Linked DNA regions of Homo sapiens: all the other regions are linked to region 2. Evidence: fine-mapped expression QTL. A gene starts in region 2. Each other region holds a variant in brackets. All regions are shown on one strand. Distances are from middle to middle.

Evidence for each region. PIP is the estimated chance that this variant, and not a neighbour inherited with it, causes the effect.
Region 1: its variant is fine-mapped to the expression of ZNF319 in whole blood (TOPMed, PIP above 0.99).
Region 3: its variant is fine-mapped to the expression of ZNF319 in whole blood (INTERVAL, PIP 0.97).

What each region holds. Positions count from the first base shown.
Region 1 is chr16:57,892,712-57,895,211 of GRCh38, reverse strand. All of the region lies in intron 31 of CNGB1 (cyclic nucleotide gated channel subunit beta 1), which reads left to right. Among named protein-coding and RNA genes, the nearest start is that of CNGB1, 77 kb to the left of the region's middle. The variant C/T (reference allele first, on the strand shown) is at 987.
Region 2 is chr16:57,999,144-58,001,984 of GRCh38, reverse strand. ZNF319 (zinc finger protein 319) reads left to right here and starts at 1,313. Exons shown (of 2, transcript NM_020807.3): 1 at 1,313-2,492. USB1 (U6 snRNA biogenesis phosphodiesterase 1) reads right to left here and starts at 578. Exons shown (of 7, transcript NM_024598.4): 1 at 404-578. The coding sequence starts at 501. RefSeq lists enhancers at 340-439, 466-760, 933-1,102, 1,960-2,229 and silencers at 520-769, 1,060-1,659, 1,710-1,839.
Region 3 is chr16:58,028,636-58,031,468 of GRCh38, reverse strand. All of the region lies in intron 1 of MMP15 (matrix metallopeptidase 15), which reads right to left. Among named protein-coding and RNA genes, the nearest start is that of MMP15, 4.3 kb to the right of the region's middle. The variant C/A (reference allele first, on the strand shown) is at 1,860.

The DNA of each region.
Region 1 (2,500 bases), 110 kb after region 2:
GGCTTCCCAGAGTTGCTGGGATTACAGGTGTGAGCCACCGTGCCCTGCCACCACATATTAGAATTCATTCTAATATTCTCCCTTTTCATACTTGTAAATCTCTTCTCCAACACTGAGCAATACAGGGAAGTTCATTTCAGAATTTCCAGCCCATGTCACTGTAAAAACAAAAAGTAAGGCTTCTAGGTAGAGTTCAGTACTGGATGCAGTTCTTTTGTGTTTAGCCCGAGTATATATGATGGAAGTGTTACGTTCAAAGTTATCTGGAGTCGTTCTCTTCCTCCACTACCCTTTAATGTGGTTACTTTATTCATTTGAAATACAGGTAGGTTCACTTGTTTCAGTTTACATTCCATTTAGGGCTCCTGCCACCCTGATCTTTGTTGACTTTTTCTTGTTTTCAGTATGTAGAACATTAACATGTTCCTGAAGGTCAACACTCTGCAAAATGGGGCACTCAGAAAAGCGTCCCAACTCTCCCTGTCCCCATTGCCCCCTGACTGCAACTCCCATTATTACGTGGCTCGTTGCATCAATTTCTGCCTTTTCTTTCCTCTGCTTACTTTTGCGAAAATGGACAAGTCCACAGACATTTTCTTTTTTTCTTTTTTGAGATGAAGTCTCATTCTGTAGCCTGGGCTGGAGTGCAGTGGTTAGGTCTTGGCTCACTGCAACCTCCACCTCCCGGGTTCAGGTGATTCTCCTGCCTCAGCCTCCTGAGTAGCTGGGATTACAGGCATCTGCCACCATTCCCAGCTAATTTTTGTATTTTTAGTAGAGATGGGGCTTTGCCACGTTGGCCAGGCTTGTCTCGAACTTCTCACCTCAGGTGATCTGCCCGCTTCTGCCTCCCAAAATTCTGGGATTACAGGTGTGAGCCACCACACCCAGCCCAAACATTTTCTTATTTCTTCTTCTTTCTTACACAAAATATGGCATGCTGTAGATTCTTGTACTTTGCTTTGTTTCCACATGACGACAAAACC[C/T]GGAAATCATTGTCTATCAGTGCAGAGTCAGCTTCCTCATTCCTTTCCACAGTGGCAGAACATTCCTGTAAATGGACATTTAGGGTATTTCCACAATTTTGCAATTACAAACAGTGGTGCAACGAATAACCGTGTGCATCCGTATTTTGCATTGTTGGGGAACAGGTCATTCTTTTTAGAAAAGCCGGTTTTTGTTTTCAAACCCTTAAGATCAGGTTTCAAATTGAGCGACAGGCAACGTAGTGTGTCAGGAACCCCACAATAGGTCTGGGAGGCTGGCGGGGCTCAGATCCCTTCCATGTGAGGTGCTGGCTGTGTGACTTTGAGGAAGTTGTTTAACTTTTCTGGTCTCAGTTGTCTCCTATGTAAAATAAAGGTCATAACCCCTACTTTGCTGCTGTAAATTTTTTTTGTTTTTTTGAGATGGAGTCTTGCTTTGTCGCCAAGGCTGGAGTGCAGTGGCGCAATCCTGGCTCACTGTAACCTCTGCCTCCTGGGTTCAAACAATTCGATTCTCCTGCCTCAGCCACCCCAATAGCTGGGACTACTGCAGGCACATGCCACCACACCCGGCTAATTTTTGTATTTTAAGTAGAGACGGGGTTTCACCATGTTGACCAGGCTGGTCTGGGACTTCTGACCTCAGGCGATCTGCCCGCCTTGGCCTCCCAAAGTGCTGGGATTACAGGTGTGAGCCACTGTGCCTGGCCTGCTGCTGTGAAAATTAAATAGTGTGCAGGAATGTCTCCGGTGGGGTGCCTGTCATACAAGAGAGCTCAGTGCATGTTAATAAGGATCACTTCAGGCCGGGCGCAATGCTGCATGATTGTAATCCCAGCACTTTAGGAGGCTGAGGCGGGAGGATCATTTCAGCCCAAATATTTAAGGTTACAGTGAGTTATGATCGTGCCACTGCACTCCAGCCTGGGTGACAGAGCAAGACCCTGTCTCTCAGATAAATAAGCAATTGTTCCTCTGTAGCCATCAAATTCACCCTATAATTTTTCAGTTGGGTAAAACCTTTTTAATCCACATATCTGGGTTTTCCTCCTTGTCTTGTATCACACATTCTTATTTTCCCCTTCATTCTATACAATGACACCATAAATAAACTGCACAGAGAGCTGTCATAATAGAGGGAAGAAACTCACCAGCATCCATTCCTACAGCACAGTGATGTATCGAGTACACAGTGCTGAGTTCTGGGGACACAGGAGGGACCAAACAAAACTCACATTCTAGTCAGGGAACCGGCAATGGAAAGATGAGCGATGATGTGATGCGTCTGGCTACGAGGAAACACAAAGCCACGGGAGGAGCGGGAAGTGACGGAGAGCTGTCTGAGATAAGCTGGTTGGGGAAGCTGCTCTGAGCAGGTGGCATTTCAACGAGACCTGCACAAAGCAAAGGAGTGAGCTGGGGGACTGATGGCTGGGTACAGCATTCTGGGAAGAGGGAACAGCATGTGCAGAGGCCCTGGGGAGGAGCAGGCTTAGTGTGTGGGTGGCACAACA
Region 2 (2,841 bases):
AGCCTGGCAGGGAGTGGGTGCTCAGTGAATATTTACTGGATGAATGAAAAGGCTCTCCCTACGCTTTAGCAAGTATTACTATCGCAATTGTATTCAAATCAGGAAACGGACCTAGGATGGTACAGGGATGTGTGCCAGGCGATAGAGTGGGCCAGCGCGAGGCTGGACCCGAACCCAGGTCTGGCCTCCCAACTTGGCCCTAGCCAGGTGGGGCCACTCTGGAGCTTTGTCTGGGGTGGGGGGGAGGGGTATATCTTCTGGATCCTCCTTTCTTCCTGCGTCCCCTTTTCCTTCCCAGAGCCGCCCCGCATCCTCCCTCCCCACTCCACCCCCAGACATTCGGGTCCCGTCTGGCTCTAGGGTGAATGCGCGCGCCCTCCGGAGAGACTTCCTCACTCCTCACCGACGGTGGCTCCCATCCCCCGGCCTGGTCCGCATCCCGTCCTCGGACTCATCCTCGGAGCCGCTGCTGCTGTAGCCCACCAGGGGCGCCGCGCTCATGGGGCCTCATCCAAGACCACCAGAGCAGGTCCACCAGCAACCTCAACCGGCACCCGGAGTTCCGCTGTGCCGGAAGCGCCCTCCCAGGGGCGGGGCCTGGGCTGGCACCGCCTCGGGGCGGAGCCGGGAGGGGCGGAACCCGGCAGGACAGTGGTGAAGATTCAGCCCACCGACTCCAAGCTGTCTGCCGGCTGCGCACGCGGATCTGGTCACCTGCAGCCTCCCGGCACCCCGCTGGGACCTCCCCAGCCTTCGTGTACCCATTTCATATATCGCTCAGGGCCCTCACCTTTCTGCCCGCTGCTGTCTGCAGCCACCCGGGACCAGACATACCAGACACGACAGTCCCGGGTCAGCGCACTAGACCCAGCGGAGACCCCTGCCTGCCCCGAGCCCGGCCAGGATCAGAGGTCCTGGAGCCCCCTCCTCAAACCAGCCCAAAGTCCAAGCCCCTAAAAGCCAAGCTGAGCAGTTAGGGGCGGATCAATTGTGGCAGACCAGAGCCTCTAGGAGGCCCCTCCTCTCCTGCGCAGAGCCGGGCCGAGGGCGGTCACCCGGAGCCCCCTCCCCTAAGCCCGAGCGGGGTGGCCGGAAGCAGAGCGCCCTTCCTCGGTTAGTCGAGGCGCCCAGGCCTGGCGACTCGAAAACCGCCCGGAGCACCCGGCTTGTCCGACCTGGCCCGGCCACGGGGTCCCCGGCAGGGGGCGGCCTCGCTCCGCGCCGCCCGCTCCTCCCGCATTGGCCGCCGCCGCCCGGGATGCCGCTCCTCCCCCGGCCCCGCCTCCCTGGCCCCCGCGCCGCCCGCCCGTCCGCCCGTCTCCGCAAGGCCATCGGTCCGTCCGCCCGCCCTCCCGGCGCTCCTCGCCCCGGCCCCGCTACTCCGGCAGCGCGCGTCGCTTCCTCCGTTCCGGCCGCCGCTAGCCCGTCCCCCGCCCCCGGTCCGGCCGCAGCCGCTACGCGAGGCCGGGGATTGGCAGCGCGCGTAGGCCGCGCCGCCGCGGATGGAGCCGGAATAAAGGGGCGGCCGAGAGAGCAGCTGGTCGCCGCTCGCCCCGCGCCTGCCCTGCAGGCGGCCTGGAGCAGGTGAGCGGCGGGGCGCCCGGGGCCGCATCTGGGGGCCACCCCCGCGCCCGCCGCACCCCTTCCTCTGCCGGCCCGGCCGCCCCCCCGCGCCCCTCCGCCGCGACCTAGCGGCCTCTTGAGCTTCTGGGCGGCCCAGGCCGGGCCTCGAGGCGCAGCCGCTTCCTGGGCCCGGCCTGTAGCCCTGGGGCCTTTCTCCAGCCCGGCCGCCCTCGGGGCTCGCCCTCGGGTCGCAGCGGCCGGGCCATCCCGGACGAGGGCTGACAGGACGCAGCCCAGCTGGGCCTGCAGGCAGGGCCGGCGGGAGGTGATCGGCTTTCATTCGGTTTCTCAGGGAGGAAGAAGAGACGGGGTGGGGCGCAGGTGGGGGGCCTCCCCTGCCTCTCCTTGCCTCCTCTCTCCCCTTTGCGGAGTGATCACAGAGGCTTCCTGGCTGCACCTTGCTGCAGGAGGGCCAGGGTGGGCAGGGGGTGCTGCAGACCAAGCCAGGGGACACTGTCTGACAGCCATTCATGCCAGAAAAAGCAAACAAAACAGTGGGTTGGCACAGCGGACCTACAGGCGCTCAGAGAAGCCCACCTTCCCCCTCTCTGTCCCGAGAAGGCTTAGAGTGGTACCTGCTTGCTCAAGCAACCTGCTGCCTCCACCCAGAGCAGCCGCTCCTCTCCTCCCTCCCTTCCGGAAGATGCTGAGGATGACAGCTTTTAGCCTGACTCTTACATTTCTTTGGCAGAGCAGTTAGAGGCCAGACTGTCCTGTGAAGGCTTCTCCTTCCTTCTTCCTCTGCTCAGGAGAAAACTTACAAACTTTTAAATGTAAGAGGCAGATGAGCTGGGAACCTGGAAGTGGGTTGCATCTGACTCTGAAAGTTCCTCCCTCTCGCTGGCATTACCTCATGCTGCCACAAAGTGGTGAGTTAGAGATTTGCCTGGGCTGGGTGGGCTTTACCTTCCAACAATTACCCAGAACTTTATAGGCTTGGAGTAAGGGAATGGAGTTGTCTCTAGAGAGGTGATGAGAAATGCTCTGTGGTTAGCATGCTGCATCCTGCATTGCCAAGGCAGACCAGGGCAGTTTCTTACATTTTCCTGCAGGCCTTGACACTATGAGATTCAGAGGATTTAGGACTTTGTGTGTGTGTGTGTGTGTGTGTGTGTGTGTGTGAGTTCTGGGAGAGAACCAGAGTGAGGAAGTTCTGCTGTGTGGACATCAAGCCTGGGTGGTTCTGTGGCCCTCTCATCTAGCCCCCATCACCTATGG
Region 3 (2,833 bases), 29 kb before region 2:
CAGGTGCTGACTCCTAGACGGGGCTGTCCACAGGGCAGAGCTTGGGTGGCTGGACAGATGGGGGCAAGGCTGGGTGGGCCGGGGGAGGGCTTTTGGCTCACACAGCTCAGGCAGCCCTGGCTCCACCTCAGAAACCTCTTTCCCACCTGGATCGGGCCCAGCAGAATTCTGCCTGGTGGAATTTCCACAGGATGGCACCCTAGGCTCTGACCTGTAGCCTTCAACCCCGCATGGGGGTTGGGAACTTGGGCTCCAGGCCAGACTGAGCTGGGTTCAAATCCAAGCTCTGCCACTCCCTGGCTATGGAATGCGGGGGTCATTTCTCTCAACTCACAGTATTAGTTTCCTCTTTTGTAGATTGAGTAATGACAGCATCTACACTTGAAGAGTTAATACAAGGATTAAATGTGAAAACGCTTACAAAACATCCCTAGTCTGTGTCCACAACAGACACAAGTATGTTGAAGGTGCTCAAAAATAACACCTGCGCCTCCTTAGGCCCCCTGTGCCAGGCATTGTGCATAGCGTTTAGTGTTTTGCACATAAATGCAATGAATCTCCCCGTAACTCCATCAAGCAGATAGACCATTGCTATTCCCTTTTTATAGAGATCTTGAAGTTCATACAGATTCAGTGACTTGCCCAACAGTAAATGCCATTCGCTTCTGTCACTGTTTTGCACTATTTTGCCAGGGAGGCTCTGGACACAGGGTGTAGGCCACCGTGTTGTGCACTATGTATCAAGTGCCATGCTCAGAAACGCTGAACGTGGAGCTGGACTCTCACCCCTACAGGGTGACAGTCACTCCTAGGGGAAGGACAAGGCAGTGCCAGTGCCAGTGCCCTGGAGAGGTGATCTAGACCTTGGCCTGCATCACCATCGGCCGATGGCAGCAGGATGGGGGGCATCTCCAGGGGCTGGCTAATGGCTGGTACCAGGGGCTTATCCACCTGTCCTGATACTGGAGGCTGAGTTGGGTCTCTTCCCACTTTTTCTTCCATTCCCACGAGGGCCATGGGATTAGGGAAGAGGCATCCCTCTTTGCCTCTGGGATCCAGGCCCAGCTCCATGGCCTCTGGTCTCAGGAATCCCTGGAACCTGTGTCTGACTGTGGAGCAGCCCTATCTGAGCCGTCACTCAGAGCTGTCCAGCCAGATGGTGCCTACTGTGTCTCAGGTCTGGAGCATTCAGCCGCCTTCAGGGTCCCGGTCCTCACACTCAATGGTGGGCTTCTCCCAGGACCCGCTTTGTAAAGGAGAAAGATAAGGGCAGAGTCCACAACCCCTCTCTGTCTTTGCTGACTCAGAAAACACATCTCCAGGACCAAAGCATTGCTCCTGCTGGAGTGTCCAAGACAGGGAGCCACCTAAGCCTTGGGATGATATGGAGGATACCCATTCTGATTTGATCTGGAAAGTAGTGGTTCTCATAGTGACCACCACAGCTAGCCTGAGGCAGAGGTCAAACTCCCAGCAGGGCAGAGGTGATGATGGAAGGGATCATCTGGACCAAACAACAAAAGGGCCACAGAGGGACAGCAGAACAAACCGCTCGGCAGGGAGGGGCTTTTCCACGCCTGCAGTGTAGCCATCCTGAATGGGCATAAGAGATAGCAGTGGGCACTGGGCTTTTGGGGAAAGTCTTCTTTTGGGGGTGGGGATAGCGTGTATTTCCATGTTGCTCCTCTCCACATTCATGGATATCTTTTAAGTATCAACATCCCTTGGGGTGGGGCAAAGGAGGTATTTATGTTCAGAGGTCACAATGGGAAGGTCAGGCCAATACACTGCTCAGACAAGGAGCTTACACTGGGCTGTTCTCTGCAAGGAGACAGATGACTGGCTGGACCCAAGGGCAG[C/A]CCCAACTCGGAAACATGGCAAGGGCTGGGTGTGAAGGGCATGGCCCAATGAGATCTAGGTCCCTGGCTGTGCCAATCAGACCAGTTCTCTCTGGGTCTTGACAGAGCATGGAGAGGAGTGATTTACTACTAGCAAGAAAACAGAGTAAAAAGCAGAGACAAGAGGGGAGGGGGAGAAGATTCAGCTTCTGCAGATTCCCAATGACAAGGCCCCGCTATTAACTCCCTTTTCTTAGCTGGTGGGCACAGATGGCATCTGTAGTTTTGCTCTGTTTAAAAGAAAGAGGGGACCAGTGGGGCCCCCCCGGAGCCAGCATGGAAGTGCTAGTAGAGACTGAAGCTAAGGAAGCCCAAGACTGTGGCTCACCTGAAGGTCAAAATGGTAATTCACGCTGACCCCCTCCCAACGCCCCCACCCCCGCTGCCTCATCTACTCAGTGGCTGGGTAGGGGCTAGGAAGATACTCGTGGGCCTGTTGAGGAAAGGCGGGTGGATCGGTTTTGGTGGTGGTGGCACCACCCCTGTGAACTCTGGCAGCCTGAGTCACCTCCACAGAGCAGGCTGAGGACCTGAATTGTGCCTGGGAGGAGGGGGTAGGGGGAGGCAGGTGAGATAAGAGCTCCCCCGGTGAGCCTGGAGACTCTCAGCCCTGCAGGGCAGGAACAACAGTGAGCACCTCAGCCAGGTGGGGATCTGGCCCGGAATGGCTACAGACTGGGATTGGACATCCAAGGGAGAATGTGGGATAGGACGTGGCAGCTCAGTGGTGGGCTAGGGCCTGGCAGGTTGCAGGTGTTTGTCAGTTCCTAGCACATGCCAGGCTCCTTGATGTCTCAGCCTCGTGAAAGTCCTGTGGCTTCCACCCTGGGAGGGGAGAGAGGAAGTGGAGAGAGGCTGGCCTTGGCTCAGCTGCCAAGCTGCTCCGAGAAGGTCCCAGCTGTGACCCTACTGGAGGCCTGAGGCTGTGTGGATGC